2 linked regions of the Homo sapiens genome follow. The protein of the gene in region 2 purifies or fractionates together with the protein of the main gene of each other region. This does not show direct contact. Each region holds a gene or a part of one and is shown on either strand. Other genes may lie near its edges.

The links.
Region 1: the proteins of PPARD (region 2) and TRMT6 purify together in Homo sapiens (affinity purification with mass spectrometry; 3 studies listed by BioGRID and IntAct, with this or other methods). This does not show direct contact.

What each region holds. Positions count from the first base shown.
Region 1 is NC_000020.11:5,946,710-5,963,141, forward strand, and holds the start of TRMT6 (tRNA (adenine(58)-N(1))-methyltransferase non-catalytic subunit TRM6), read right to left. Parts: upstream 3,825-16,432; 5' UTR 3,697-3,824; coding exon 3,569-3,696; intron 1-3,568. Other genes in the region: DNA helicase MCM8, read left to right, coding at 5,307-5,454, 5,715-5,819, 7,899-7,981, 8,393-8,542, 10,417-10,520, 11,819-12,017. UniProt on the Homo sapiens protein: Substrate-binding subunit of tRNA (adenine-N(1)-)-methyltransferase, which catalyzes the formation of N(1)-methyladenine at position 58 (m1A58) in initiator methionyl-tRNA.
Region 2 is NC_000006.12:35,415,558-35,431,492, forward strand, and holds the end of PPARD (peroxisome proliferator-activated receptor delta), read left to right. Parts: intron 1-4,569; coding exon 4,570-4,724; intron 4,725-6,262; coding exon 6,263-6,401; intron 6,402-8,388; coding exon 8,389-8,591; intron 8,592-8,771; coding exon 8,772-9,222; coding exon of another isoform or gene 9,223-9,230; exon of another isoform or gene 9,231-9,843; intron 9,844-10,274; coding exon 10,275-10,522; 3' UTR 10,523-12,621; downstream 12,622-15,935. UniProt on the Homo sapiens protein: Ligand-activated transcription factor key mediator of energy metabolism in adipose tissues. Receptor that binds peroxisome proliferators such as hypolipidemic drugs and fatty acids.

The sequences.
Region 1 (16,432 bases), on a different chromosome or scaffold from region 2:
TAATGAATAAGCCACAAGAACACTGAATTTTGGAAAGGGGAAGCAAAGACTCATCGAAGTAACAAGGATTTAACAAATTTCTTGGGCTTGGTCTGATCGGCCATTTTATTTGAAAATTATCTAATAAAAGCAAATTATACTTGCAAATAAACACTGACAATCTACACACTTGGAAATGGAGCCTAACACTGACAATGCTCTACTGAGGACCAGGCAACTTGAGGTTTCCTATGACATAGATTTTTTATCTTATTGCAATTTAAAAGAGAAATCCCACAGGAACACAATGCTTTCTTCTCAAAAGAAAACTAACATCTGCTGAGTGCCAACCAGGGGCTAGGCAGTGTGTGCGAGGTGTGATTCACACTTTTTGATTTAATTCTCACGGTAATCCTGGGACATAGCTCTTTCCAGAAGAGCAATCCGAGGCCCAGGGAGAAGTATCTTGTCCAAGATTCACAGTTGCAAGGTGTTGTTGGAGCTGGGATTCAAATTCAAATCTGTGTCTGACCCCAAGCCTCATTCTTTCCACTATACCACACGGTCTACTCCAGCAAAGACCTAAGGACGGTAGAAAGCCCACCTAGCTTCAGGACATGGCCCATGTGCACAGAACACTGAATTCTGGGAATCATGTGGTGGTTAATTCTGATTGTGCCCCATCCCACTCCTTCTCTTCCTTTCTCTGTGCCACCAGGAAGCTGATTACGACAGAATATACTGCCACATCACCCACGCTCCCGTGTCAGAGGCTTACCACCATTGCTGGTCTCTGGGTGTGTCACCTTTATTGGTTCCCTAAATCGGCCACACTTTTGAGTCACATCTTCATTAAAGCTTACTCAAACCATCTGAGGGAAATCCTGTATGATCGTAAGTGATTCAGATATGGCCAATTCTTGTTATTTGCTGGGTCCCTAGATACTTACATACAACAGAATGTAACAGACACTCAAAATATTTGCTAATGTAAACCTCCTCAGATGTTGCAATTCAGCTCAGCCCAGATGTGCACCCCCTATCCTCATCCTTTAATCACCTAGGTGCTTTGAAACACTGGATCTGGCCAGGTGTGGTGGGTCACACTTGTAATCCCAGAACTGTGGGAGGCCAGGTGGGTCACTTGAGTCCAGGAGTTTGAGACCAGCCTGGCTGACGGGGAAAAACTCCGTCTCTACAAAAAATAAAAAAATTAGCCAGGTGTAGTGGCACACACCTGTAGTCCCAGCTACTTGGGAGGCTGAAGCAGGAGGGTCACTTGAATTCAGGAGTTTCTCTACAAAAAGTACACAAATTAGTTACTGAGGAGGCTGAGGTGGAAGATTGCTTGAGCCCAAGAGGCAGTGGTTGCAGTGAGCCAAGTTCACGCCACTACACTCTAGCCTGGGGGACCGAGTGAGATCCCGTCTCACAAAACAAACAAACAGACAAACCAAACAAAAACACTGGATCTGAGATGGGTGGGTTTACCTCTCTGAGAGCCTATGTGATATGCAGAGGGGATGATGCGTGTCACTTAAAACTGGCTGGTTTGACAGGTCACTGCCCCAGTCGGGAATGTGGGGCCCCGTTAGAGGGATAAGGAGGCCACATCTTTACTGGGAAGGAGTAGGATTTGCAGAGTCTACTTCTCAGAGAGCCTGGACTGTTTTTTGCCCAATCAGATGAGTGTAGCCCCAAGGGTGATGAGGGAGTCTGACCTGGGATGCAGCTGAGCTGAGAGAGTCATTTCCTAAATAAAATGGAAACTGCCACTATGACTTCTGCGAAGAAGAGGGCCTGTTGAAAAGTATTTCCAAATAAATGTTTAGGGCAGTGGTCTCCAACCCTTTTGGCACCACAAAAGGGGAAGGTCAACTACTGTTCATGCCTGTAATCCCAGCACTTTGGGAGGCTGAGGTGGCCGGAATTACTTGAGCCCAGGAATTGGAGACTAGCCTAGACAACATAGTGAAACTCTGTCTCTGCAAAAAAAATTAATTAGTTTAAAAAAGAAAAAAAAGAAGAATTTAAAAATGGTTAAAGGTTGGTGCAGGTATTACATTTCCGGACTAAAAGAAACATACCCCTCATAAAAGAAACTTTTTATCTTTACTAAATTAGTGCTTGTGCAAAAAGCTTGGTTATCACCAGCTTAGTGCTCTGGAGACTTGTTTCTTGACTATTTTATGATGCTTGCTTCACCTTAAATACCAGTCAACAGTTTGCTTAAACCAGGAGTAAAAGAATTCATCTGAAGTAAGTACTTATCAGAAATTCCAAATCTCATACTTCCCAGTCTGCAGAAAGCTGTTCTCCTGACATTGCATTCAACTTATCTCTGTCAAAAGTAATACAATAACCTAGCTCAAAAGAAACTGTGGCCAGGTGCGGTGGCTCACACCTGTAATCCCAGCACTTTGGGAGGCCGAGGCGGGTGGATCACCTGAGGTCAGGAGTTCGAGATCAGCCTGGCCAACATGGTGAAACCCCGTCTCTACTAAAAATACAAAAAAAAAAAAAAAAGATTAGCCGAGTGTGATGGTGCCAGAGTCCCAGCCACTAGGGAGGCTGAGGCAGGAGAATCGCTTGAACCTCGGAGGCAGAGGCTGCAATGAGCCGAGATTGCACTACTGCCCTAAAGCCTGGGTGACAAAGCAAGACTCCGTCTCAAAAACAAAAACACTGTGGTTGTATTTCTCAGATAAATTAATCCAAATATCCCAATAAATTTTCACCATTAATAAGCTCTTAGGACTTAACAACCTCACCAGCCCTTCCAGAAAGTTATCAAAATCCCACTTCTTTACTTCTATAAAACAGAGCGATACTAGCCAGCAGGTGCACAAACCAAACCTAATTTGGAGTTCTGAGGCCTTGAGCAAATTGCTTTTTAGCAATTTTCCCAGCGTTGAATCCTTTGGTGAGTAAAACGAGGGAAACTCAAAGTGATTCCACACTCTGTGGTGAATTGTCTCCTTCATCTATTCTGTGTATCCTGCTTGGGTAGAGAAGAGGATAGAAAGCCAGACTAGGTAGGAGACGTTTCATTTTTTGTGGGATAGATCCTGACTGGGGGATTAGGGAAGAAGGAGGATCTATGGTGGAAAAAAAGGGGGAACCTGAAGGAGACTCTGGAGACAAGGATGAGATCCTAAAGTGAAGAAAGGAGGGGGTGTCTCTGGAAAGACAGTGAAGATCCCAAGGTCCTAGGGAAAGAACTTCAGGACAGGTGATTAGGGTGTGGAGAGGGAGGCATTGGCACCCTAGGGCCAAGAATGGAATTCTGGGGAAGGAACTCTGTGGAAAGACTGAAAAGGATGCTGAAGGTGGACGGCCAGATATGAAATCATGGAGGGGGCTCCGGGAAAAACAGGAGGGTTAAGGGAGATTATGAGGTTCGAAGACGGGATCCTGGTGGAAAAGCCTTCTGTGACAGAAAGACCCGAGGAGACAACGAGGGCGGGGAATGGGGACCGAGAGAGCCAAGAATGGCACCCTGGCGGAAGAATTCTGTGGAGAAACCTGGAGGGAGGGGGTATCTACAAGGTGGGGGCGGGAGACCCCTAAAATCAGCGATCTGACTTACTTTCTCCGCTGGACTTGTACTGCTTTAAACACATCTTCACGTTTCAGCACCACGAAGTCGCCGTCGCGGATGCGGTGGTCTCCGGGATGCTGTGGTTGTGGGCCCGGCTGCTCCCCTGAGCCCTCCATGACGCTCAGCCGGTCGCCGTGCTCCACGGCGTCCCGCCCCTCCTCCTCGGTTGTCGCCACCGCCAGCCTCACTTCCCACAACCTGGCGCACTAGGAGCCCTCCGACCGGCACCGCCCCCACGTGTTGCACGCCGCTTCCGCTTTCCGGCCCAGACCTCAAGACCGCTTCCGGAAGCCTCTCGGCTTCCGTCTGGCCAAACTCCTTGATTGGCTGCACTCCGCCCCGCCCCTCTCGTCTTGCCGCTTCTTTGAGCGGAAGTTGGATCACTGAAGCGCCAAAAAAGAATTTAGGGGAAGACCTGATTTTCGCTTGAGGCATTTTTGCGGCGCTGTGCGCTACAGACACCTTCTGGAAGCTGCGGTGGGGAAACTGAGTTTCCCGAGCCGTTGAGACAGATGGGGTTCAGCACCGCGCGGGGACGACAGGAAAGCTGCGGCTGAAGAGAACTGCGGACTTGGCAGGAGTCGCCTGAGGAGCTAAGATCCCGGAGACTCTTAGCCCCGTGGTGCTTCTCTACGGGAGGGAGGGAGGGAGAATCCGGCCGGACAGATCTGCGCGTATCCTGGAGCCGGCCCAGTTGTGAACTAGGAGAGCTTTGGGACCTCTGTCCCAAGCAAGTAAGAACTTTAGCCTTAGGAGATGTAAATAAAGTAGTATTTGAAGAAGCACAGGTACCCAACTGTTTCTTTTTACTCTTTCTCCAGTCCTACTTCTTAACGTTTTTTTGAATTTGTTACTGTTCTCAGCATATTGTCTCGTTTGAGAAGGGTATGGCACGCAGCGTTGTTGAAGGAGCGCCTCAGCTTGGGAGGCTGAAAGTTTTATCTCTGTACTGTCGACAAACAACTTTGATCTTGATCGGTTTGCTTAATTTCTTTGAGCATCAGTTTCATAATGTGTAATGCCTAATTATTGGAGCCCTGTCATGCCGTTAAATCGTGAACTTTCTAGTTACTATCTTGTTTTATTAACTAAACCCCTTTTAAGTAAGGATTTGGGTAGAGTATTTGATAATGAATTGCACTGCAGCGTACAGGTATATCTTTATTTACTTGTATACTTAGGATATGAATCATTTTTAAGTAGACGTGTATTTTATAAGAACAGTTTTGGATTTACAGAAAAACTGCACAAAAAATGGATGTGACACTGCAGGATTGACTGTATGTAAGAAGCTATGATGATGTATCCCTAGTGTCTCACAGGCCAGAATTATGTTCATCCTGTCCTGCCCTATAATAAGAAGTCTCAAATACTGCAAATAAGTTTTCATAGAGTTAATTACCTGTCCTATTTTCATTTCTGTAATGGGGACTTGTAAACAGGTACAGTACCTGTCCTTATTTTTAACCTGTGAGCGTCTAGTATACGTAAACCATATTTAATAGTTATTAAACTATTATGGTATACCTTAAAAAGCGATAGAGATTAGAAACTTAACTGCAGAATATTTGGGTCTTGTATCATAGCTGTACAACTTTGCAAGCCTGTTTGCTACTCTTGAACCTAGAATACATTAATTTTTCCCTTTTTATTAATACATTTTTAAGAGCACTATTTTCCTTACAGTTTTGGTGAAGACCTTTTTAATATCTATCTTTTAGGAGAGATGAATGGAGAGTATAGAGGCAGAGGATTTGGACGAGGAAGATTTCAAAGCTGGAAAAGGGGAAGAGGTGGTGGGAACTTCTCAGGAAAATGGAGAGAAAGAGAACACAGACCTGATCTGAGTAAAACCACAGGAAAACGTACTTCTGGTAGGTGAGGTCAATGATTGTTCAATTTTTTTCACTTAAGGAAGCAATTCACGTCTATCATACAAGGCGGTTTATCTCATACTTCAGTTTGTCTTTTATTTCATGCTACTCCTTAGTAAGTATTTGAACATTGATGTCCCAGATTTTTACTAAAACCCCTAATTTGGATACTCTATTAATGAGAGTCTCATTTGGAAAGAGAAGCATATTGGAAAAATGTTCACTCTGTTTCTACTAACCTAGTATTTTATTTTTTTCAGAACAAACCCCACAGTTTTTGCTTTCAACAAAGACCCCACAGTCAATGCAGTCAACATTGGATCGATTCATACCATATAAAGGCTGGAAGCTTTATTTCTCTGAAGGTAGGGTTTAAAAAGTACAAAAAAGCACCATAAATCATATTTTCTTAACTTGTCTTTGGATGCTACATCTTGTATTACTGTAATTCATTTACTAACATATACCTGCTTTAATCTTAGTTCACCCAAACAATTAAATGATGTTTATGTTTCAAAAGCATTTTAGACTTTATATCAGTCAGGAAAGCAGAAACCATACTAGGTATTTCAAAAAGGGGACTTAATACAAGAAATTGGATACAAAAATGGAAGACTGAAAGAGCAGAAAGGAAATATTGAGGTAACTCCCCAGAAAGTAGTAATTCAGGAAGCAGCAACCATCCTTATGGCTAAGAGACTAAAAGAAGTTCTGAGGTTACCAGAATGTGGGAATTCAAAGGTTGGAGAGGTCACAGCATAGCTGTTATTTTGACTTTTGAGGGGCACCCTACAAAGCTATGCTTGGACTTCTGAAGGCTACCTTACAGAGCTGTGCTTAGACCACTAAGGCAAATGAAGCTGGTTGCCACTGGTAACTGAGGGGGCATGACTCAGTGGTGCTTGGAACTGGAGGCTAGCACTATCGTTATCTTCTGCAGCTGCAGAGATGCTGAAAAGAGTTGGAAACAAGAATAAATTCCTTTCTCTTCCTGCCACCTTCCCGTCTCTAAAGTGCCTTCAATTGGCAGAATTTAAAGAGAATCTGAGACATGTAGGGTACAGATCTGAATTATAGCATCGCAGAGCAGGAAGTAGAACAGTGGGCCTGAAATCAAGGGACAATAACAAATACAGCTTTGTGTAGAAACACAGGTAAGGAATCTCCCTTTGATAATTAGGAATACCAATTAACCTACATCAGTCTGTATAGGTGCAGGGAACTGTCTTTTTTGTGCTGTTAAAATACCCATTTGTTTCTTATGTCTCATGAGGGGTGTGTGTGTGTGTGTGTGTGTGTGTGTGTGTGCATACTTTTTATTTTTTTTTGAGATGGAGTCTTGCTCTGTTGCCCAGGCTGAAGTGCAGTGGCGCGATCTTGGCTCACTGCAAGCTCTGCCTCCCAGGTTCACGCCATTCTCCTGCCTCAGCCTCCCGAGTAGCTGGGACTACAGGCACCCGCCACCACGCCCGGCTAATTTTTTCTGTTTTTAGTAGAGACGGGGTTTCACCGTGTTAGCTAGGATGGTCTTGATCTCCTGACCTCGTTATCCGCCCGCCTCGGCCTCCCAAAGTGCTAGGATTCCAGACGTGAGCCACCGCACCCAGCCGCATACTTTTTTTTTTTAGGAAAACTAGACGTTTGAGGTCCAGGACCCTCCCTGCCCCATACCAGGCATGCAGTAGTCATTTTGTGAATGAATAGAGTACTTTACAAATGTTTTCTTTATTGGAAATCTGTTCGTTTTTTTCCATCAATAGAATCTGTTTCATGAATGATCTTTTGTTCCTTTAGGATGTATTAGCCACCAGCACTCCCATTGCTCCCCTAGCAGATAGCTCAGAACACTATAAGTGATCTTTGGACAGTCCTAAAGATGGAGTTCAAGAGGTGCCTTAGCCTTCACCATCTGTGCTTCCAAACTACTTTATTGTACTGTTCTTCTGTGAGAGACATATTTGAAAATGTAGAACTTTAGAGTGTTAAAAAAAAAAAGGCTTTTCAGTTTTGCCACCAGGGTCAAGTGTTGGTCTGTCTCCTGATCTCAGGAAAGACTGTGATTGTGATTGTCTTCAGCTCTGTCAGAGTAAGAGCTTAGTTTATGTGTCTGGCTTTGGCTTTATTATAATTTTTAGTTTAAGCTTATTGTCTAAATTATCTGAACTAACATGTCCTATTAGGTGTCAAAGATGCAAAACAAAGTTTCCCAGATAGTGGGGCTTTTAGAGAGAGAGAGTTTCTGTCTGCATTTCACATTATGCAAACCTAAATTTGTTTTAGAATCTTAAGTTTACATTCTATACTAGTTCTTATATGAATGTAATCAAAATACAAAGCAATTAGAAAAAAATCATCTACCATGTATATAGTGCTGCTTTTGTCTCATGAAAAATGTGCATGTACCTGTGTGATTATTTGTGCTAATGCCATATTTGTTGGATTAGTTTACAGCGATAGCTCTCCTTTGATTGAGAAGATTCAAGCATTTGAAAAATTTTTCACAAGGCATATTGATTTGTATGACAAGGTAAGATTCCTCTACAGCAAAGCTACCAGTCATGTGCCATCTTACCAATGTATTCGAGGTACTTGTGATTATGATCGTAGGCACTGGAGTCAGACTTCCTTGGTTCAGACCTCAGTTCTGCCACTTACCTGCAGTATGGACTTTGATTAATTACTTCTCTGTGCCTCAGTTTTCTTTCATTTGGAGATAGAGGTATAAATACCTACCTCAAAGGATTGTTAAGAGGCAGTAATACATTAATATATTTAAAATATCAGAACCATGCTTGGCACAAAGCTTATACTTATGTCATACTTACCATTATCACATATAAACATTGTATGCTTTCTCAAAGTCTATAATAGAATGCTCAGTTAATGGTAATTGACTACAGAAAAGCAATTATTGTTTTCATACTTTTATATTTTATAGGATGAAATAGAAAGAAAGGGAAGTATTTTGGTAGATTTTAAAGAACTGACAGAAGGTGGTGAAGTAACTAACTTGATACCAGATATAGCAACTGAACTAAGAGATGCACCTGAGAAAACCTTGGCTTGCATGGGTTTGGCAATACATCAGGTAACTATTTGTCTTATGCATACTTTTGTCTAAACTTTTTTAATGTTTGCACACACATGCACACCTTGTCTAAGTTTAAAGGAAGATTTTACAGTGACTGTACTTTCTATAAGAGATACTTAGCTTTTACGAAAAGATGTTGGCTAGAACTGAGAGGTTGCAGTTCCGTTCTGAAAGATACCATTCATTCTATATACAACAGCTTATCTAAATGAAATATTTACCTCCAACTTATTTGGATTTGCTTAATCTTGCTAAAGATTGTGCAGAAATTAAACTTTGCTTTCAAGAAGTTATACAATCTCATAGGGAAGATAAAACAAGGAATCATGGTGTTATCGGTTATGAACTTAGAGCAAAAAAGAGCAACCTTAGATTTAGGTTCTGTGGCATGAAGCAAACCACTGAGTGTCCCTGTATATCAAATGTAAATAACAGTTTGTACTGTGCTTGCCTGAGTTTTTTTTCAGGGTCAGGTAATACAACATATATGAAAACATTTTTAACTTTTTAAATTTTTTAAATTTATTTTTTATTTATTTTTTTGAGATGGAGTTTCACTTTGTTGCCAGGCTGGAGTGCAGTGTCATGATCTCCGCTCACTGCAACCTCTGCCTCCCGGGTTCAAGTGATTCTCTTGCCTCAGCCTCCCGAGTGGCTGGGTGCACCACCATGCCCAGCTAAGTTTTGGAGTTTTAGTAGAGACGGGGTTTCACGATGTTGGCCAGGATGGTCTTGATCTCTTGATCTTGTGATCCGCCTGCCTTGGCTTCCTAAAGTGCTAGGATTACAGGCATGAGCCACCTTGCCCGGCCAAAAACATTTTTTAGGCTAGCAAACAGATACATGCTTCAAGGTAATGAATAGCAAATCTCAGGACAGGCATACACAAAGTGCTGGGGCATTCAGAGGGGCATTCTTCTACCTCTTGCCTGTGCTGTCCATTCAACATAGAATCCCCTTCCCTTCACATGGACAGATTATTTGGGCCTAGCTCAGTTGTCTGTCTGTAAAACCTTTCTCATGACCACTTTTCGAAACTTGCATGGTATTTTGTCTGTACATCTTTATGGTCCTTATGACAATTACAGCTGTATATATGCATCTTATTTTGCCTCTTAGGTTGCCAGCAAACTGCTGTGTACAAGTGGTATTAAATGTTTGTTTGTTGTTTATTTATTTATTTATTTTGAAATGGAGTTTTGCTCTTGTTGCCCAGGCTGGAGTGCAATGGTGTGATCTTGCCTCATTGCAGCCTCAGCCTCCCAAGTAGCTGGGATTATAGGCATGCACTGCCACACTTGGCTAATTTTTGTATTTTTAGTAGAGATGGGGTTTCACCATGTTGGTCGGGCTGGTCTCAAACTCCTGACCTCAGGGGATCCACCCACTTTGGCCTCCCAAAGTGCTGGGATAACAGGTGTGAGCCACTGCGCCCAGCGTGTTTATATTATTTAATGTTAAATGCCAAGGGAGTGAGTATTAGGTATTTTAAAGGTCATTTTTATTTTCTGTGTCTTGATTGGTCAGTGAATATAGAGAAATAGGAATGCATTTTTTTTTTTTTAATTAGTATCAAGAGGTGATGGTTTTGGGGACTAATGTAAGGGCTTTTAATGTTAGGTTTAGTTGGGACAGAAAGTAGCAGACTGGGATGCTGGAGTTTTTCAGCACAGGGACAGCAAAATCCAATGTAAAACATCCACTATAAAGTAAGTAGTCATAATTAAATATTAGATATTTAAAGGGCTGTTAAAGTTTTCTGTTTTTATTCTGTTTCTGTCCATAAACTTTATATTCTCTATAAAAATAGAGTTCTGTATAAAGAGGATGTTTTGTTTTCCAACTTCAGAGTAAATGTCTGTCCTGTTTAGGTGTTAACTAAGGACCTTGAAAGGCATGCAGCTGAGTTACAAGCCCAGGAAGGATTGTCTAATGATGGAGAAACAATGGTAAATGTGCCACATATTCATGCAAGGTGAGGAATTTGATGTATTAAAGTATTACTTAGAATGGGACATTGAAGGCCATTTAAGAATGAAAACGCTCATTTTATAAAAATGAGGAAATCAGTAAAAAGGACATGAGTTCCTTGCCATCTCATTGATCATCACACTGAAATAAACTCATTGAAAATTATTCAAAGACATCATGACAGATACTTCCTAAATAAGGAAGAAAATGTTGATTTCCTAACCTGCAGATTTTTGTAAACATTGGTTTTGGATGTGAACTTATCAAGACCCTGCTGTGTAAGTTTAATAATCCATGTATGGGTTGAGTATCCCTAATCTGAAAATCTGAAATCTGAAATGCTCCAAAATTCAAAACTTTGAGCCCTGACACGACACTGAAAGGAAATGTTCATTGGAGCACTTCAGATTTTTGAATTAGAGATACTCAACTAGTAATATTGCAAATATTTGGAAGTCCAAAAATTCCAAAATACTTCTGGTCCCAGGCATTTTGGATAAGGGATATACTCAGTCTGTAATACACTAAGTGTTCTTTGTTAAATTATTAGGTTTTTGTTAGATACAAGGGAATAATGAAATTATTTTGTTTTTCTTGAATTCATCTTTAAGATTTTAAATTCATTAGAAGAATTCATTATAAGGTAATCATCAGCATTTTGTTTTTCTTTTCCAGAATTTATAGAAGAAAATTTCCTAGCAGTTCTTTAAAAAGAACTTAGAAACCCAAAGGTTTTTGAATCTGTAGATTTTCCTTTTGGCATTATTTTTTTCCTTAAATTTCTTTTTTCTTTTTTCCTTGAGAACAGCCTGTGAGACAAGAAGAAAAAGGAAGATTTAGTGTTGTTTCTTGTTAAGAATGGTTTGGCTGGGCACGGTGGCTCATGCCTGTAATCCCAGCACTGGGAGTCCGAGGCAGGCGGATCACGAGGTCAAGCGATCGAGACCATCCTGGCCAACATGGTGAAACCCTGTCTCTACTAAAAATACAAAAATTAGCTGGGTGTGGTGGCACACACCTGTAGTCCCAGCTACTCGGGAGACTGAGGCAGGAGAATCACTTGAACCCGGGAGGCAGTGGTTGCAGTGAGCCAAGATGGCACCCCTGCACTCCAGCCTGGCAACAGAGCGAGACTCCATCTCAAGAAAACAAAACACAACAAGAATGGTTTAATTCTTGTGATATTTCTGATATATCGAAGGGATGATTTGATTTGAGAATTCCATAGTTGCTCCTAAAAGGAACTTGTGAAAATATAAAAAACATCAATTTTCTGTTCATTACTTCCTGTTTTGTCTTTAGGGTGTACAACTATGAGCCTTTGACACAGCTCAAGAATGTCAGAGCAAATTACTATGGAAAATACATTGCTCTAAGAGGGACAGTGGTTCGTGTCAGTAATATAAAGCCTCTTTGCACCAAGATGGCTTTTCTTTGTGCTGCATGTGGAGAAATTCAGAGCTTTCCTCTTCCAGATGGAAAATACAGTCTTCCCACAAAGGTAATACGTTCTTTAACTGCTTCTTTATTTATCTTGGTAAAGAAGGCAAATCAGAATACAGAAAACATTTCCCAGTGTTTCTGAACACAGAGCTTATTTTTATTTTTTATTTTCAATTTTCTGCTTTTATATTATGAAATACTTCAGGGTAAGAAAAATACAGAAATAAATAAAACATTCCACTACTCATCACCCCGAATTTACATTTTTCAGCTCCGGACACATTTTTTAATGATATAAAGCATTACTGGCACAATTAGTGTCTGTTTTTTACCTATACCATTCCCAGGGATGATCATTATCCTGAAGTTATTATAATATGCATCCCTTCCATTCATATTTCTGTTGACTTCTAGGTATACACACCAAGTTTTTTTTCCCCTTTATTTCTTCTACTATTTAGAAGTGATGGGTTTTTTAAATCTTTATTAGCCTTTATTAAACTGGATTTTAAAACTATAGAAAAGTGCAGAGAATAATGTAATTAACATTTATCTACTCTATGATTTGGCAAATATTAATATTATTTTAGCTTAATTTGTAACAAAAATATGGTTATATAAAGTTGAAGTCTTTCTGTTCTCAGTTTTATTCCCTTTATTTGCTCCCTAGATGCAACCACTATGCTGAAATTGGCATGTATTCTTCAAGTTTACATTTTTATTCTTGACTACATGTGTAGAGTTAGTTTTTTGTATTGTGTTTACGTAAATGGTATCCTGAATGTAACACGCAGCTGTTTTTTTATTTGGTTATTTTGTAGTTCTACCTATTTTAATACATATCAAATTCTTTCATTTTTACTATTGTGGAGTGTTGCTTTAAATAAATAGCCACAATTTATCCATTTTCCTGGAGGTAGACAATTGTGCTCTTTCCAGTTTTTTATAAGAACAAATGATACTGCAGAGAACATTCTTGTACATGTCTCCTTAGCAGAGGAATACTAAGTTGTAGGCTGTACTTTTTTTTTTTTTTTTTTTTTTTTTTGAGACGGAGTCTCGCTCTGTTGCCCGGGCTGGAGTGCAGTGGCGCGATCTTGGCTCACCGCAACCTCCGCCTCCTGGGTTCAAGCAGTTCTCCTGCCTCAGCCTCTCGAGTAGCTGGGACTACAGGCACGCGCCACCATGCCTGGCTAATTTTTGTATTTTTGGTAGAGACAAGGTTTCACTATGTTGGCCAGGCTGTTCTCAAACTCCTGACCTGGTGATCCGCCTGCCTCAGCCTCCCAGAGTGCTGGGATTGGCCGGCTGTACTTATTTTTAACTGTATTAGATGTTACCAAATTACTTTCCAGAGTATTGTTCCCAACTTAAATCTTTGCTGGTAGTGTTAAGTAGTTACCATTTCTCTGTCTTTTCATTAACACTTGGTATTGTTAGACTTGTACATTTTTGACAGTTTGTTAGGTATAAATAATACTGCATTTATAATGTGAATTTTTCTGATTTCTGTTGTGGTTGAGCATCTTTTCATATCTTTACTGGCCATTCAGTTTCTTTATCGAATTTTCTATTTATATCTAATGTTCATTTTCCTGTTTATTGGTTTATTCTTTAATTTTGTTTTTTAGAGATGGGGTCTCATTCTGTTGCCCAGGCTGGAGTGTAGTGACATGATCATAGCTCATTACAACCTTGAACTCCTGGGCTCAGGTGATCTTCCCATCTCAGCTTCCCACGTAGTTGGGACTACAGGTGCCAGCCACTGTGCCTGGTTCTATTAGTTTATTGATAGGAGTTCTTTATACATTCTAGATACTAATTATTGTTGATTATATACATTAGATATTTTCTCCCAGTCTTTGGTTTGTCTTTTAACTTTGTGGGTTTTTTTGTTGTACAGTTTTACATTTTGACATGATCAAATTGTTGTCTTTTCCTCCCTAATTTGTATATTTTATGCCCTGCTTAAGAAGCCGTTCTTCGGCTGGGCTTGGTGGCTCATGCCTGTAATCTCAGCACTTTGGGAGGCCGAGGCGGGCAGATCACCTGAGGTCAGGAGTTGAAGACCAGCCTGACCAACAGGGAGAGACCCCATCTCTACTAAAAATTCTAAATTAGCCAGACGTGGTGGCACATGCCTGTAATCCAAGCTACTCGGGAGGCTGAGGCCGGAGAATCGCTTGAACCCAAGAGGCAGAGGTTGCAGTGAGCCGAGATCACGCCATTGCACTCCAGCTTGGGCAGTAAGAGCGAAACTCCGCCTCAAAAAATACATAAATAAATAAGAAGCCCTTTTCACTCAAGCATTATAAACATATTTCCTACATTGCTTCTAAGAATCCTAAGTTTTGTTTTTTATCTTTAGATCTTTTGTCCATCTGGAATTTAAGCCATTGGTGAAGGGCATAAAACTAGGGATTTAAGCTGGGCATGGTGGCATATGCCTGTAGTCCCAACTACTCAGTAGTCTGAGGCAGGAGGATCGCTTGAGCCCTGGAGTTTGAGACTAGCCTGGGCAGCATAGTGAGACCCCCATCTCTTAAAAAAACAAACTAGTGATCTAATTTTTAGGTGAAAAGCTATTTATCCTGACACCATTTATTAATTAAGCCCTTGTTACCATGGATGTATAATGTTTCCTCGGTGGTACCCAGAGTCATCGTTATCACCATTGGGCTTTACTAAATTTAACATTTGCTAAATTTTTGCTCATGTGAAGGGTTGAATCCTTAGTGAGGTAAATAGTCCCTTGAAGAATTAAAAAGGGAAACATAAGATGTTTATGTTTGAAATTCCTAAGGCTTCTTTCTCTGACTGGAAGAAGAGGGTATGTGAGATTCAGCTATTGGTTCTGAATAATCAGTGGTGTTGATAGATGGGTTTCATCTGGTGTTTGTCTTGGCTTAAGGTTCAAGGTATAACCTTTAGCTTAGAGGCCAGAATTTAAATCCTGATTTAAACCAGATATTTTCTTCCTTTTATTTTGAAGACGGGGTCTCACTCTGTCACCCAGGCTGGAGTGCAGGGGCATGAATACAGCTCACTGCAGCCTTGACCTCCTTAAATCAGATATTTTCTAGACAGTATTTGTTCAGGGTATTTTCATGCCCCCTAATAAATTAGGTAGTAGCATTGACTCATGTGTGATGTCGTGAAGAGGTCCTCCATTTGTCTGAACTGTGGGGCTTTGAAGTGACAGAAAGATGGCTGTTTCAGTTGATCTCTATTCCCGCCACTATTGTTGCGTAACACATCACTCCAAAACTCAGTGGCCGAAAATAAAGCCAATCATTTTATTAGTTCTCATGATATCTGTGGATCAGGAGTTTGGAAGAACTACTCAACTGGCTAGTTCTGGCTCCAGGCCTCTCATGGAGTTGTAGTCAGATGGTGGCTGGAGTACAGCAAGGTGGCTGGGGGCTGGCCAGGCATCTTCTTCTCCATGTGGCTGTGTGGGCTAGTTTGGGCTTCTTGCACACAGTATAGCAGCTCAGGCACTCAGTCTGCTTATATGGCTGCTGACAGGTTCAGGTCAAGAAGTGCAGTTGGTAGGCAGAAATGGCCTTGCCTTTTGTGAGCTAGTCTCAGAAGTCGTGCAACATCACTGTGTCACATTCTGTTGGTAACAAAGTGAGTCCCAGGCCTTCTCAAATTCCAGGAGAAGGAATTAGCCTTCATTTCTTTTTTTTTTTTTTTTTTTTTTTTTTTTTTTTTGAGACGGAGTCTCGCTCTGTCGCCCAGGCCGGACTGCGGACTGCAGTGGCGCAATCTCGGCTCACTGCAAGCTCCGCTTCCCGGGTTCACGCCATTCTCCTGCCTCAGCCTCCCGAGTAGCTGGGACTACAGGCGCCCGCCACCGCGCCCGGCTAATTTTTTGTATTTTTAGTAGAGACGGGGTTTCACCTTGTTAGCCAGGATGGTCTCGATCTCCCGACCTCATGATCCACCCGCCTCGGCCTCCCAAAGTGCTGGGATTACAGGCGTGAGCCACCGCGCCCGGCCTTCATTTCTTAATGGAGGAGTAGCAAGGTTCTAAAAAGTCTTGAAGATAAATATTGTTGCAATCATATTTGGCAAATACAGTCTGCCACAGTCTGAATTTATAAATGCTTCTTGAGATCCAAACACCAAACAAGTGCCTGTGTGGCATAATAAGTATTACACTCTACAGAAAGTGCAAAAGGAGCCTAGATGAGAAAGCTGGGGATTAAAGAAAACTCTGGAAAGCCTTTTGAAAAGGAGAGGATTGGCATTGGGCATGTGGGACAGAATGAGAGGGTTGTTGAAGGAGCGAGAGGTGGCATGGGCACAGAGGAAGCAATAAGTGCTTCATGTGGGAGGCAAGCAAAGCACCTTGCATACCCATAGCAGGATACGAACAGTAAGTGAGAAGGATCAATTGGAAAGTGCCTCAAAAGCTGTCGATATTAAATTGTTGCAGGAGGAAATAGAAAGTCATTAATCTCTCAG
Region 2 (15,935 bases):
ACTGAATCCAAACATTTGGATAATGACATGGTGCCTCCTCAGCAGTGACTGTGTCTTCTTGTTCATCATAATAATGTTATTGATTAGCGGTACTGAACATGTAGGTATGCGTAGTAGTGAGATGCCGAGGTTAAGAGCTCAGCTCCAGGAATTGCATGGTTCTAGGTTATAATTCTTGCTCTGTCACTGTATTAGTCAGGGTTCTCCAGAGAAGGAGAACCTGTGTGTGTGTGTGTGTGTGTGTGTTGAAAGAAAGAGATGTGTTTTAACGAATTGGTTCACACAGTTGTTGGAGTGGCAAGTCCAAATTTTGAAAGGCAGGCAGGCTGGAGAGCCGGGGAAGTTGATGTTGCAGCTCAAGTCCAAAGGCAGCCTGGAGGCAGAATTTCCTGTTCCACAGTGGGGCCACGGTAGGCACTCAGTCTTTTTTCTTAAGGCCTTCAGTTGTTGGATGAGGGCCACTCACATTATGGAGGGTAATCTGCTTTACTCAAAGTCTTCTGATTTAAATGTTAATTGCATCTAAAAAATATCTTCTTAGTGGCCGGGCACAGTGGCTCATGCCTGTAATCCCAGCACTTTGGGAGGCCAAGGTGGGTGGATCACCTGAGGTCAGGAATTCAAGACCAGCCCAGCCAACATGGTGAAACCCCATCTCTACTAAAAATACCAAAAAAAACTAGCTGGGCGCCTGTAATCCCAGCTACTCGGGGGGCTGAGGCAGGAGAATCGCTTGAACCCGGGAGGCAGAAGTTGCAGTGAGCTGAGATCGCGCCATTGCACTCCAGCCTGGGGAACAAAAGCGAGACTTCATCTCAAAAAAAAAAAAAAAAAAAAAAAAAAAAAAAAAAAACACCTTCTTAGCACATTGTTTGGTCAAACAACTGGGCACCGTGGCCTAATCAAGTTGATATGTAAGACCAACATAGCCGCTGCCAGCAAGTTACTAACACTTCTGAGCCTTGGAGCCTCGGCTTCCTTGCCTGTAAAGTGGGGGTAAGAAGACCATCTTGAAAGGTTGTTTTGAGGTTTTACGTGAGATGAAATGGGTGTCCAATGGAGTGCCTTTAGCAGGACACCTGCTTACCCCCACCTCTACCCAGGACATCATGATGCGGGGGAAGTGGTGGAACCTTCAGAACCCAGCCCCTAGTATGAGAAGAATTCTGCCATCACCTTTCTTTCAGCAGAGAGGGAAGCAGTCCCCTTCCGTGACAGTCACATGCGTGAGTGATGGCTCCTTCCAATATCCTGCACTTCTTACTGCCCCTTACCTGGCGTTGCTCCACTCTGTCTCATGTTCTAGTTTTCTTATCTCTTTCTCTTTTTTTTTCTATTTTATTTTTTTCCTGTAGGCACAAGTGAGTTACAGTAGGTTAAGTTACACCTTACCTTTCCTTGTTTTTCTTGTTTATTTATTTGTTTATTTATTTTTTTGAGACAAGGTCTTGTTCTGTCACCACAGGCTGGAGTACAGTGGTGCAATCACAGCTCACTGCAACCTGGACCTCCCAGGCTCAAGTCATCTTCCCACATTCAGGCAATCCTCCCACCTCAGCCTCCCAAGTATCTGGGACTACAGGCATGTGCCACCACACCCAGCTAGTTTTTAAAATTTTTTATAGAGATAGAGACAGGGTCTCACTATGTTGCCCAGGCTGGTCTCAAACTCCTGGGCTCAAGTGATCCTCCCGCCTCAGCCTCCCAAAGTGTTGGGATCACAGGTGTGAGCCACTGCACCTGGCCTTTTGTTTTTTTTAAGTAGAGACAGTCTTGCTTTATCACCCAGGCTGGTATACGATGGCACAATCACAGCTCTCCTAGGCTCAAGGATTTTCCTGCCTCAGCCTCCTCAGTAGCTGGCACTATAGGCAGGTGCCACGACACCCAACTATTTTTTTTTTTTTACTTTTTATAGAGACAGGGTCTCACTATGTTGCTCCTGGCCTCAGGTAATCCTCCTGCCTTGGCCTCCCAAAGTACTGCGATTACTGGCGTGAGCCACCACACTCAGCCGAGTGCAATGGCGCGATCTCAGCTCACTGCAGCCTCCGCCCCCCTGCCCCCGGGTTCAAGTGATTCTCCTTCCTTAGCCTCCCGAGTAGCTGGGACTACAGGCATGTGCCACCACGCCCAGCTAATTTTTGTATTTTTAGTAGAGATGGGGTTTCACCATGTTGGCCAGGATGGTTTCAATCTCTTGACCTCGTGATCCGCCCGCGTCGGCCTCCCAAAGTGCTGGGATTACAGGCGTGAGCCACCACACCCAGCCCTGCTGTTACCTCTTTCTTACCTCAGCTATTTGAGGATAGAGTCTAGGTCCTGTCCTGCATATAGAAGGTGCTTATCATGTGTCTTTTGAGTGAACACAGAGGGTGACATTGTCACGTGCAGTGCCAACAGAAACCAAATGACTAGACACCTGCTGACCTTCCATGGCCACAGGGAGGATGAGAAAGGCACCTCCAGGAGGTGTGAATAATCTGAGGGTATTGGCCACTGTGGACAAGACTCGGTGGTGGAAGTGAGCTCAGAGATCCAAAGGGAACGTGAGTAGAGACATGCAGAGTCTCGCAGAGGAAGCAGACGTGCAGGCCACAAAGACAAAATTACAAGAAATGCCCCAACACGAGCATATGCTCACGGACTGCACAGATTCAAGGAGGAAGTGCCAGAAACCCTGCCTGCCCCAGCATCTGCACAGGCATCCACAAAGGGTTTCTGTCATGTTATCTCTTTTTCTTCCAACATCCGGTGCTGTGAGTTTTATTGTCCCTGTTATAAATGCCTCCAGGAGTGGCAGGTCCTGCCCAGCCCCATCAGCCAGTTGGTGCTGCAGTCAGGACACCCAGGCAGCCTGAGGACTGCCAGATGTGCAGAGAGCTATCGCGTGCCTGCTGCGTGCCCAGCACCTCACACAGCTCTCAGTGTCTGACCACGCTGGTGCCCTGGTGGACAAAGTTCCTGCCCTTGTGGCCCTTTTGTCTAGTGGGTGGCTTCCAACAATGAACACACACAGGATATGTCAGGCGGTGACAAAGGCTACTGAGAAGACCAAAGCGGCTTCACCCTCCCAGAGCACAGCTTTTCCCTCCCAGGCCCGAGAGATGTAGGGAGCCCACTGTCCCAGTCTGGGTCAAGAGGAACAGTTACAACACCTTGGAATGACTGAAGTTGGGAGCTAAGGTGCCAGGACAAGACAGGCCATTTTAGGAACCAGAGACTTGTGTTACCCCTAAACCTCACCAGCCAGGAGGGGAGCAGCCCACTGGGTCCTCTCTGCCACAGTTGGGTGCTTCTTGTGCTCCCCCTCCTGTGGTCAGGATAGGGGAAGCAGGCTTTCCTGCTGCCACTCCTAGGACCCAAGGGGAAGCTGGGGGAGTGGGGAGACCATGTGGGAAGGATGGAGTGCACTTTGATTGGTAGCAGGTGGATAGGTACTCCCATGGTGGGGAAATCAAAGTTGCTTGGCCTGTGTAGTAGACAGGTATTACCACAGGCCTGGAAAACATTAGCCTGGGTTTATCTCTGTGGCTTCGGTCCCCCAACATCCCCTTCTACTCAAAATGGCTGATTCTCTGGTTTGGAGGTTTGGCACCTGCTTTTGGGGAGGTTGCTCAGTCATTAGAGAAGAGTGCAGAGGTTGGACGGTCATCATGGCAGAGGTAGGACAGCTGGTATGTGGGGCCATGAAACCAGCTTTGGGCTAGGAGTCAGGAAGCTGAGACTCAGTTCAGGTCCCCTTTCCAAGATGAAGAGATCATTTCCGAGTGTCCAAAGGGCACTGGGAAGAGAATCCTAGCAGTTCTTATGAAATCATCTGACAGCAGATATATCCTGAAGTCATAGCCTTAGCAAACTGCCTTTCTCGCCAACACACTCAACACCCCGTGGTTCAAACATCTATACGTCTGATAGAAAAACTTGGAGAAATTCAGTGTGTTGCTTAATCAATATGACTGATACCTAAGCTGTTCTACTCAAGAAGTTTTCATGGGAATGAACTTGAGCTTCTTGAAGAGATTGTTTACAGCATCCCTGGAGTCTATGCAAGAATAGAACTTCCTGTGGGGGATGGTGGGGAGGCTAGCTCTGCAGAGGTCTACAGTCCTGCAGTTTCTGCAAAACACGTTGCACACATCTCCATATGGGCCACACGGTGGCAACCTCTGAACCAGGAGAGCTGCTTCCTAAGGGCTAAGACCCTCTGTCTGCTTTCTCTCTCTTGCTTTCCTCCCAAAACACAGCCATCCTCCTCCCCACTGCTACCCCATGGTGAGTTCAGCCCAGGAAGCCTCTGACCCAGCCCTGATGGTAATAGCTGCTGTGTACTGGACATCTTCTGTATGTTAGGCTCTGGGAGAAATGCTGTGGAGACTTTTTGCCCATCCTCCCAGAGAAGCTGTCAGTACCCCCTGTTCTAGGTGAAGAAACTGGTCCTCAGAAAGGTTGACTCCCTGAGGCCACACAGCTGTTAAGTGGCTGAGGCGAGGGCTGTGGGGCTGTTCCCACGCCCTGGCTTCCAGGCCTGGCAGCATGTGGAGCTGCCCCTCCATCGTGTGTCCGCAGACCTCTCCCGGAGCTCCTCGCCACCCTCACTGCTGGACCAACTGCAGATGGGCTGTGACGGGGCCTCATGCGGCAGCCTCAACATGGAGTGCCGGGTGTGCGGGGACAAGGCATCGGGCTTCCACTACGGTGTTCATGCATGTGAGGGGTGCAAGGTACGGACTGGGGGGAGCGGTGGCTGGCCACTGAGGCTGTGGTCACATGGTGAATTGACCCTCCACAAAGCTTTCCTTGCCTTGGGGTGGGGCCCTGACTGTACCTATTGCAGAATTCCTGCCCAGGAGGCAGCCAGGCCCTTGTGCTCCAGACCTCAGCTCTGGGCACTGCAGGAGAAGAGGGGGTTCCCTTGTCAAGCCTACCCTGCTGGGCACCTGTGTTGACCCAGCTCTGTGGGTGATTGTGTCCCCCTGGGGACCAGGCAGCTAGGGCAGAATGAGGGTCTTGGGCTGAGCCATCGTCTTACCTGAGGTCTGGGTTTCTTGTTTCTCAAGGCTCAAAGCGGGCTCTGAGAAAAAAGGACAGACATTTGTTTTTCCAGTGATATTTGTGGGTCCTTCCTAACTTCACACCCATCAAAATCTCACAGATTATTTTATTGAATCACCACCTCACAAATACACAGAACCAGATACATTTATGAAGAAATCAAGTTAGCCGTGAGACAATCTTATGTTACCAAACTAACAAAGAAGCTTTTTTTTTTTTTTTTTTTTTTTTTGAGATGGAATCTCGATCTGTCGCCCAGGCTGGAGTGCAGTGGCGTGATCTCAGTTAACTGCAACCTCCACCTCCCGGGTTCAGGAGATTCTCCTGCCTGAGCCTCCAGAGTAGCTGGGATTACAGGTACATGCCACCATGCCTGGCTAATTTTTGTATTTTTAGTAGAGATGGGGTTTCACCACATTGGCCAGGCTGGTCTCGAACTCCTGACCTCAGGTGATCCACCTGCCTTGGCCTCCCAAAGTGCTAGGATTACAGGTGTGAACCACTGTGCCTGACCCAATTTTTGTAGTTTTAATAGGGACGGGGTTTCACCATGTTGGCTAGGCTGGTCTTGAACTCCTGACCTCAGGTGATCCACCCACCTCGGCCTCCCAAAGTGCTGGGATTACAGGCGTGAGCCACTGTGTCCAGCCCCAACAAAGAAGCTTTAGGACTTCTTTAGACATTTAAAATAGTTGTGTTTTTTTTTTGTTTTGTTTTGTTTTATTTTGTTTTGTTTTGTTTTGAGATGGAGTTTCACTCTTGTTGTCCAGGCTGGAGTGTAATGGCGCGATCTTGGCTGACTGCAACCTCCACCTCCCGGGTTCAAGCGATTCCCCTGCCTCAGCCTCCTGAGTAGCTGGGATTACAGGGGTGTGCCACTACACCCAGCTAATTTTTCTGTATTTTTAGTAGAGACGGGGTTTCACCATGTTGGCCAGGCTGGTCTCAAACTCCTGACCTCAGGTGATCCGCCCACCTCGGCCTCTCAAAGTGCTGGGATTACAGGCGTGAGCCACTGTGCCTGAACTAAAATAGTTTTAATTAAAGTTTTAGAATTACTTTCCTTCTCCATCTCCCCTCCAAAAAAATTTCTTCTCGTTACTTCCAAATGTCAGGAGTGTTTACACCTTATACATAATCGGGCCCTTTGGCACAGCCTCCCTCCCACCTCCTGGTGGCCTTTCCTCACCTGTTCTTGGTGCTTCAGGGCTTCTTCCGTCGTACGATCCGCATGAAGCTGGAGTACGAGAAGTGTGAGCGCAGCTGCAAGATTCAGAAGAAGAACCGCAACAAGTGCCAGTACTGCCGCTTCCAGAAGTGCCTGGCACTGGGCATGTCACACAACGGTGAGAGCTGACCAGGGCAACTCACGGGCTGCTGGCTCCACACAGCCTGAAACCAAGGTCCAGGGAGCCCTTGGGGCAGCCTAGAGGGGGCACCTGTAGAGCAGTGCCTGGCGCACAGTAAGCACCATGGCTGTTGGCTGTTGGCTTTGCTGATCTGGACCTTGGATCTTAGAGCCTAAGACCTGCCACTTCCTCAGACTGCCAGCATCTACCATGGGTCCCAGGCGTGGGGTAGTGTTTACCTCCCTATACCTGAGGTTTACGCATTCTGGCCCAGAAGGGAACTGATAATTGATACCAGCTTGAACAATTTGGGGAACACCAGTCCCAGAAACTCAAGCCTGTCTCAGATGACCTGACACAGCATGAAAGCTACTGCCAAGGCCAGGTGGCCCTTCTTGGTTATAGAAGGCAGGCAGTAACCAGTAAGTAACCACATTTGTCAACTGCCAGGAGCCAGGCAGAAGTTTCTTGGAGGTCACCCACTCCCAGGAGACAGAGCCTTCTCTGCCCTGTGCTCCAGGCCTCCTGCAGAGCCTTGTCTTCGGACCCCAGGGTAGGATATTGCAAAGCCCACCTGTCCCCTCAGTACCTCTCTGAGTAAGACCCCTAGAGGACAGGGGAGAGCCTCTTGTGATCTCTACAGGCAGGTTAGCTGCTTGGCCAGCTTTTACCCAGGGATGCCCTAACTGCCTTGCATCTTAGAGGGTAGCAGTACCTGAGCCCTCCATTTGCGGCTCTCCTGGGTAATGGGGTCTGGCAGGTCTGGGTTTGACTCCTTTCTTAGGAAATCTCGGAACTGACTGAATCCCTCTCCTTACGCTAACTCCAGGAGAAGTCGAATTCGTATCCTACTCAATTACTAATGACAACAATTTTTGAGTGCTTACTATGTGAGGATTCTTATTTAATTGATCTAATAACTCAGTAAGTTTTAAAAAGTATTAGCCTCATTTTTCTGATTAAAAAAGAAAAGTGGCCAGGTGCAGTGGCTCACACCTGTAATCCCATCACTTTGGGAGGCCAAGGTAGGAGGATTGCTTGAGTCCAGGAGTTTAAGACCAGCCTGAGCAACATAGTGAGACCTCATCTCTACAAAAAAAAAAAAAAAAAAAAAAAAAATTTAGCCAGGCTTGGTGGCGTGCACCTGTAGTCCCAGCTACTCAGAAGGCTGAGGCGGGAGGATCACTTTAGCCCAGGAGGTCAAGGCTGCAGTGAGCCATGATTGTGCCACTGTACTCCAGCCTGGATGAGAGTGAGACCCTGTCTCAAAACAAAAAAAGAAAAAGGCTGGGCATGGTGGCACATGCCTATAATCCTAGCACTTTGGGAGGCCAAGGCGAGTGGATCACCTGAGGTCAGCAGTTCAAGACCAGCCTGGCCAAGATGGTGAAACTCTGTCTCTACTAAAAAAAAAATACAAAAATTAGCCAGGCATGGTGGTGGGCGCCTATAATCCCAGCTACTCGGGAGGCTGAGACAGAGAATTGCTTGAACCCGGGAGGCAGAGGTTGCAGTGAGCCGAGATCGTGCCACTGCACTCCAGCCTGGGAGACAGAGCGAGACTCTGTCTCAAAAAAAAAAAAAGAAAAGAAAAAGAAAAGTGAAGGAGTCTGCCCCAAGTCACAAAGCTAGTAAACTGCTGAGCTGGAACTCAAGCCCAGGCCTTTGTCACCAAAGTCTGTCTTACCCCAGCTAGCGTAGCTCAGTCACTCAGTAAGTTAGAGTCCTTGTGTGCTGGGCACTGTGAACAAAACAGACAAAATCACTGCTCTTGCAAAGATACACCAAAAAAAAAAAAAAATCACATCTTGTGGAGCTTGCGATCTGGAGGGGCCACCCCATCATTCCTACCTTGCTGACTCTAGAGCTTCTGGGGGCCTTAGGCTCCAAAAGGATTTGGCCCATGCACCTGTAAAGGGATGGGGATGTCAGAGGTGCTGGGGCCTGCCTGGGCTCCTTGCTGACTGCCCCCTTCCCTGTGCAGCTATCCGTTTTGGTCGGATGCCGGAGGCTGAGAAGAGGAAGCTGGTGGCAGGGCTGACTGCAAACGAGGGGAGCCAGTACAACCCACAGGTGGCCGACCTGAAGGCCTTCTCCAAGCACATCTACAATGCCTACCTGAAAAACTTCAACATGACCAAAAAGAAGGCCCGCAGCATCCTCACCGGCAAAGCCAGCCACACGGCGGTGAGTGTTGCTGCTGCTTGGCCTGGCAGCATCCTGGGCTCTGGGTCCCACTGCCGCCTGCCTGACTCCGGGAGAGCCAGGCCTTCTCCCTCCCTCAACTTCATGGTGCAGGCAAGGGACATGGGGAGCACAGGGTGGGGGTCTCCCGAGGCCTGATCTCTAACGGGGCCTGGTTTTCAGCCCTTTGTGATCCACGACATCGAGACATTGTGGCAGGCAGAGAAGGGGCTGGTGTGGAAGCAGTTGGTGAATGGCCTGCCTCCCTACAAGGAGATCAGCGTGCACGTCTTCTACCGCTGCCAGTGCACCACAGTGGAGACCGTGCGGGAGCTCACTGAGTTCGCCAAGAGCATCCCCAGCTTCAGCAGCCTCTTCCTCAACGACCAGGTTACCCTTCTCAAGTATGGCGTGCACGAGGCCATCTTCGCCATGCTGGCCTCTATCGTCAACAAGGACGGGCTGCTGGTAGCCAACGGCAGTGGCTTTGTCACCCGTGAGTTCCTGCGCAGCCTCCGCAAACCCTTCAGTGATATCATTGAGCCTAAGTTTGAATTTGCTGTCAAGTTCAACGCCCTGGAACTTGATGACAGTGACCTGGCCCTATTCATTGCGGCCATCATTCTGTGTGGAGGTGAGTGAGAGTGGGGCAGGTGGGCTGGCCTGGCACACCCAGTCGTCCTGGGGGTTGGCCCTCACTGCAGGGCACTGTGCCTGAGCTCTGACAGTGTGGGGAAGTGTCCCTGTGATCTTGGCAGTGGAACATGCAAGGCACTGACTGAGCATGCAGGATCAGCTCCATCTCATTATGTACGTAGATAGAGGTGGAGACAGGAAAAAGACTAAGCCAGACGTGGTGGCTCACACCTGTAATCCCAGCACTTTGGCAGGCCGAGGCGGGTGGATCACTTGAGGTCAGGAGTTCGAAACCAGCCTGGCCAACATGGTGAAACCCCGTCTCTACTAAAAATACAAAAAATTAGCCAGATGTGGTGGCACGCGCCTGTAATCCCAGCTACTTGGGAGGCTGAGCCAGGAGAATCGCTTGAACCCGAGAGGTGGAGGTTGCAGTGAGCCAAAATCCCACCACTGCACTCCAGCCTGGGTGACAGAGTGAGACCCTGTCTCAAAAAAAAGGAAAAGGACTAACAGGCAGTATGCTGTCATGTTAATGTGGGGTGGAAAAATTGTCTGCATTTTTTCTGCATTTTTAAAATTCCAACACAATAAATACAATAATAACTATGCTAACTAACAGTGGTCTAGAGCTTACTTCATGCCAGGCACTGTTCTTTTCATCGATGATGACTCACTTGATCCTCACAACAACCCTGTGCAGGAAGAATGTTTTGTGTCTCCATTTTACACATCAGAGAGGCTGAATGACCTGCCTATAGCCTCACAGGCAGACACAGGATTTGAATTAAGCATTGAGTCTCTTAACCACAATACTACGTTGCCTAATCGGGGGGGAGGTGGGGACAAATTGGCAAAAAACAAAAGAAGTGGATTAAGACCAGGGGTAGGGAGATTAGAACACCCAGTGGAGCATTGCTGATGGGACAGGGCTTGGTCTGTCACGGCCAAGGAGGCCTGCCGTCCCCTGGGCCAAGTCACCTCTTGGGGTGGAAGTAGGGGAGCTCCACTGCCTTTCTGAGCTCCCTGGCGTGCCCTGTGTCCCCACAGACCGGCCAGGCCTCATGAACGTTCCACGGGTGGAGGCTATCCAGGACACCATCCTGCGTGCCCTCGAATTCCACCTGCAGGCCAACCACCCTGATGCCCAGTACCTCTTCCCCAAGCTGCTGCAGAAGATGGCTGACCTGCGGCAACTGGTCACCGAGCACGCCCAGATGATGCAGCGGATCAAGAAGACCGAAACCGAGACCTCGCTGCACCCTCTGCTCCAGGAGATCTACAAGGACATGTACTAACGGCGGCACCCAGGCCTCCCTGCAGACTCCAATGGGGCCAGCACTGGAGGGGCCCACCCACATGACTTTTCCATTGACCAGCCCTTGAGCACCCGGCCTGGAGCAGCAGAGTCCCACGATCGCCCTCAGACACATGACACCCACGGCCTCTGGCTCCCTGTGCCCTCTCTCCCGCTTCCTCCAGCCAGCTCTCTTCCTGTCTTTGTTGTCTCCCTCTTTCTCAGTTCCTCTTTCTTTTCTAATTCCTGTTGCTCTGTTTCTTCCTTTCTGTAGGTTTCTCTCTTCCCTTCTCCCTTGCCCTCCCTTTCTCTCTCCACCCCCCACGTCTGTCCTCCTTTCTTATTCTGTGAGATGTTTTGTATTATTTCACCAGCAGCATAGAACAGGACCTCTGCTTTTGCACACCTTTTCCCCAGGAGCAGAAGAGAGTGGGGCCTGCCCTCTGCCCCATCATTGCACCTGCAGGCTTAGGTCCTCACTTCTGTCTCCTGTCTTCAGAGCAAAAGACTTGAGCCATCCAAAGAAACACTAAGCTCTCTGGGCCTGGGTTCCAGGGAAGGCTAAGCATGGCCTGGACTGACTGCAGCCCCCTATAGTCATGGGGTCCCTGCTGCAAAGGACAGTGGGCAGGAGGCCCCAGGCTGAGAGCCAGATGCCTCCCCAAGACTGTCATTGCCCCTCCGATGCTGAGGCCACCCACTGACCCAACTGATCCTGCTCCAGCAGCACACCTCAGCCCCACTGACACCCAGTGTCCTTCCATCTTCACACTGGTTTGCCAGGCCAATGTTGCTGATGGCCCCCTGCACTGGCCGCTGGACGGCACTCTCCCAGCTTGGAAGTAGGCAGGGTTCCCTCCAGGTGGGCCCCCACCTCACTGAAGAGGAGCAAGTCTCAAGAGAAGGAGGGGGGATTGGTGGTTGGAGGAAGCAGCACACCCAATTCTGCCCCTAGGACTCGGGGTCTGAGTCCTGGGGTCAGGCCAGGGAGAGCTCGGGGCAGGCCTTCCGCCAGCACTCCCACTGCCCCCCTGCCCAGTAGCAGCCGCCCACATTGTGTCAGCATCCAGGGCCAGGGCCTGGCCTCACATCCCCCTGCTCCTTTCTCTAGCTGGCTCCACGGGAGTTCAGGCCCCACTCCCCCTGAAGCTGCCCCTCCAGCACACACACATAAGCACTGAAATCACTTTACCTGCAGGCTCCATGCACCTCCCTTCCCTCCCTGAGGCAGGTGAGAACCCAGAGAGAGGGGCCTGCAGGTGAGCAGGCAGGGCTGGGCCAGGTCTCCGGGGAGGCAGGGGTCCTGCAGGTCCTGGTGGGTCAGCCCAGCACCTGCTCCCAGTGGGAGCTTCCCGGGATAAACTGAGCCTGTTCATTCTGATGTCCATTTGTCCCAATAGCTCTACTGCCCTCCCCTTCCCCTTTACTCAGCCCAGCTGGCCACCTAGAAGTCTCCCTGCACAGCCTCTAGTGTCCGGGGACCTTGTGGGACCAGTCCCACACCGCTGGTCCCTGCCCTCCCCTGCTCCCAGGTTGAGGTGCGCTCACCTCAGAGCAGGGCCAAAGCACAGCTGGGCATGCCATGTCTGAGCGGCGCAGAGCCCTCCAGGCCTGCAGGGGCAAGGGGCTGGCTGGAGTCTCAGAGCACAGAGGTAGGAGAACTGGGGTTCAAGCCCAGGCTTCCTGGGTCCTGCCTGGTCCTCCCTCCCAAGGAGCCATTCTGTGTGTGACTCTGGGTGGAAGTGCCCAGCCCCTGCCCCTACGGGCGCTGCAGCCTCCCTTCCATGCCCCAGGATCACTCTCTGCTGGCAGGATTCTTCCCGCTCCCCACCTACCCAGCTGATGGGGGTTGGGGTGCTTCCTTTCAGGCCAAGGCTATGAAGGGACAGCTGCTGGGACCCACCTCCCCCTCCCCGGCCACATGCCGCGTCCCTGCCCCGACCCGGGTCTGGTGCTGAGGATACAGCTCTTCTCAGTGTCTGAACAATCTCCAAAATTGAAATGTATATTTTTGCTAGGAGCCCCAGCTTCCTGTGTTTTTAATATAAATAGTGTACACAGACTGACGAAACTTTAAATAAATGGGAATTAAATATTTAAGAGCTGACTGGAAGCTGACTCAGTTACTTGCATGTTTTTCCTGGGGCTTACAGGGCTCCACGCCTCCTCCACATCCAGTACTGGAGGGCAAAGGAGGCTTTGGGCTCCAAAACCCTCCCCTGCCTCCACCTCGCTTTGCTCACCGCTTGTCAGTCAGGTGGACGACTATGCCATTTCCGCCCTGCAGAGAGAATTTGGGGTGTGAGGGGACAAAGGACTTGTGGTGCCCTGGCCTCACCTGGTGGAGCACTTGGGGTCTGGGGAAGGGGAAGGCCCCTGGAGGAGGCGGATGCAGGACTCAATAGATCAAAGCCAGTTTTTCATCACCACAAGAGATCACGGCTTTCCTCTCCTTTGCTGCCACCCAGCTCTCTCCTGTCTTTCCTGAGTGCCATCTCCCCAGCGGTCCAGTCGAGCCCAGCCCCCGGCAGCCATGGGTTTGTTTGCAGTGTGAGGCCAGGTCAGGGTGTGTAACAGAGTATGTGTTTAGTCAGGAAAAAACTACAGCTAAATATTTCCAAATGGGGAATGTACTGCAGGGAGTTGTTACAAAAGTATTGGAAGTACTGAAAGATCAATAGGGGGAAATAGGAGTCATCCAGAGATGACTAACTGCAGGAAGCCATTCTCACCTCCAGGGCTGAATGGGAAAATGGTATTCAGGGCCCACCGTTGCTACAACACACACTGACACTGCGGCGACCCAGGAGCCTGAAGTCACCAGTTGATTTGACTGTAGAACCAGACTGCTGGTGCCTGAGTTCACGCAGATGGTACATATGGGGCCACCAGAGTGCCCGAGGCCACCACCACTGCTGCCCCTGGAACCTCACTGCTTGAGTGCTGTAGCCCCATAACTCATAGCCTGGTCTCAGCTGCTTCTGCCAGAAGTGCTGTCAGAGTTTGGGGTTGGGGAAGCAAAGGATTCTTCCTTCTGCCTATCTTCCAGTCTGTTGCTTTTACCTCCCATTGGGGGAAAAAAATGCATGGTAGTCTAGGAAATGGAGTTTGTAGACTTCCAGCCCTTGCAGCATAGAGGAGCATGTGGAAGGGTGGGAACTGAACCAAGCGTCTGCAGGCAAACAACTAGCACAGCGTACAGGCACCAGCCCCAGTGTGAGGGATCCCAGAGGCCCACAGCTAAGGGATGGTCACTACAGCACTTGCCTCCTTGTTTTCTTTCTTTGCTGGTCATCTTGGCAGAGCAATCTGAATTGTCAGGTCCCATATGGTTCATCTCAGTCCAGAGAGTGACAGCCCCAGGGGAACAGGAGGAAAAGAGGAGAAGGAAGAAAAAAAGGGGTGCTTGGAACCAGGGCATCTCTGAAATTGGTAGCCTTTTTTATAATGGAATCCTCTGGTTTACTTGGTGTTATAAGTAAAATGTTTATTCAGAAACAGAATGCTTGTTCCTTGGAACTATAAGGAAAAATTAGCATTTAGACAAAAAGTTTTCTCAGCAAGGCAATTTTACTTTCTGCAGGAAGGGTGTTCCTCACAGATGGAACAATGGCGAGAGCACACACGAACAAAGGAGGGAAGCAATTTTTATCCTTTATGCAGCTTGTCCCTGCTACTGTGTCCTGTCTCCATTGGCTGAAGCCAGACCACACAATCTAAGCTAAACCTGACTGGCTAATAACTTAAAACTTTCCTAAATAGGTGAAGGCAAGGGAGAACAAAGGAAAAGAGGAAGTTGCTTGCAAAAGGACTTAGAAAAGTAATAACCAAATATCTGGTTAAAGTACAAGGACATAGAATGTACTAATTCCCTTATATCTAACAGCTACACAGGATAGGGCTTAACAAAGAGTTATTAGCACAAAACAAGGTGGCTTGAAGGAAGTTAGTCTTTAAAAGAAACTATTATTTCTAACACTTATGATTTATTTTTTAACAAGAAGGGAAACTTTGAAGAGGAACCTTTTTTACTTTCTACACTTGGTTTATTTTACTCACCTCCCTATTCTTTCCCACACTATCAAATGGGGAAAAAATAGTCAAAGACTGTGTGTGTCTCAGTTGTTAAAGGCCAGTCCTCTTCCCAGCACTGAAGAACCCAGTATACTAAATAACCAGTTCTCACTCAGTTCAGAGAGTCGAAGCTGTCTCAACCACTTTGCCTGGCTTCTGGTGCTGCAAAGAGCATCATATGACTCTGGCCCCCGTTGTTACTACCCTAATTGCTATTCCTTATTAAGCAGCTATTCATGCATTATACATACATCACCTCTAATCTTATAAGGTAAACATTATCACCTGTCATTTTACAGAGGAGGAAGCGCAATGAGAGATTAAGGGGTGTGCCTGTGGTCACAGCTAGGAAGAGGCATGGCCGGTATTCCATCCGCAGCCTTAGGATCTCTGCTTTTCAGCCAGGATCAAAACTTTGGGGAAAACAGTTGGTCACCTGGTCTCTTTTTAATAATGCTCAGGACAAATGAATCAAGCATTTAAACTAAAAAAAGAAGAAAGCAAACTTAGGAGACTTAGAAGATTCTCTTGGCAATAATTCTATAAACCTAAAAGTATTCTGAAATTAGAAGTTTATTAGAGAGATAGCCGGGCACGGTGGCTCACGCCTGTAATCCCAGCACTTTGGGAGGCCAAGGCGGGTGGATCATGAGGTCAGGGGATCGAGACCATCCTGGCTAACACGGTGAAACCCCATCTCCACTAAAAATACAAAAAATTAGCCAGGCATGGTGGTGGGCGCCTGTAATCCCAGCTATTCGGGAGGCTGAGGCAGGAGAATAGAGTGAACCCAGGAGGCGGAGCTTGCAGTGAGCCGAGATCGCACCACCGCACTCCAGCCTGGGCGACAGAGCGAGACTCCGTCTCAAAAAATAAAAATAAAATAAAAAATACATTAAAAAAAAAAAAAGAAATCAAGGTTGGGCGTGGTGGCTCACACCTGTAATCCCAGCACTTTGGGAGGGTGAGGCGGGTGGATCACCTGAGATCAGAAGTTTGAGGCCAGCCTGGCGAAACCCTGTCTCTACTAAAAACACAAAAAATTAGCCAGACGCAGTGGCACATGCCTGTGGTCCCAGCTGCTCCAGAGGCTGACACAGGAGAATCTCTTGAACCTGGGAGATGGAGGTTGCGGTAAGCTGAGATCGAGCCACTGCACTCCAGCGTGGGCGACAGAGCAAGACTTCGACTCAAAAAAAAAATCAAAACATAAGAAAGGAATAATTTGCTTTGTTTGTTTTTTTGTTTTGAGATGTAGTCTCGCTCTGTAGCCCAGGCTGGAGTGCAATGGCATGATCTCGGCTCACTACAAACTCTGCCTCCCAGGTTCAAGCAATTCT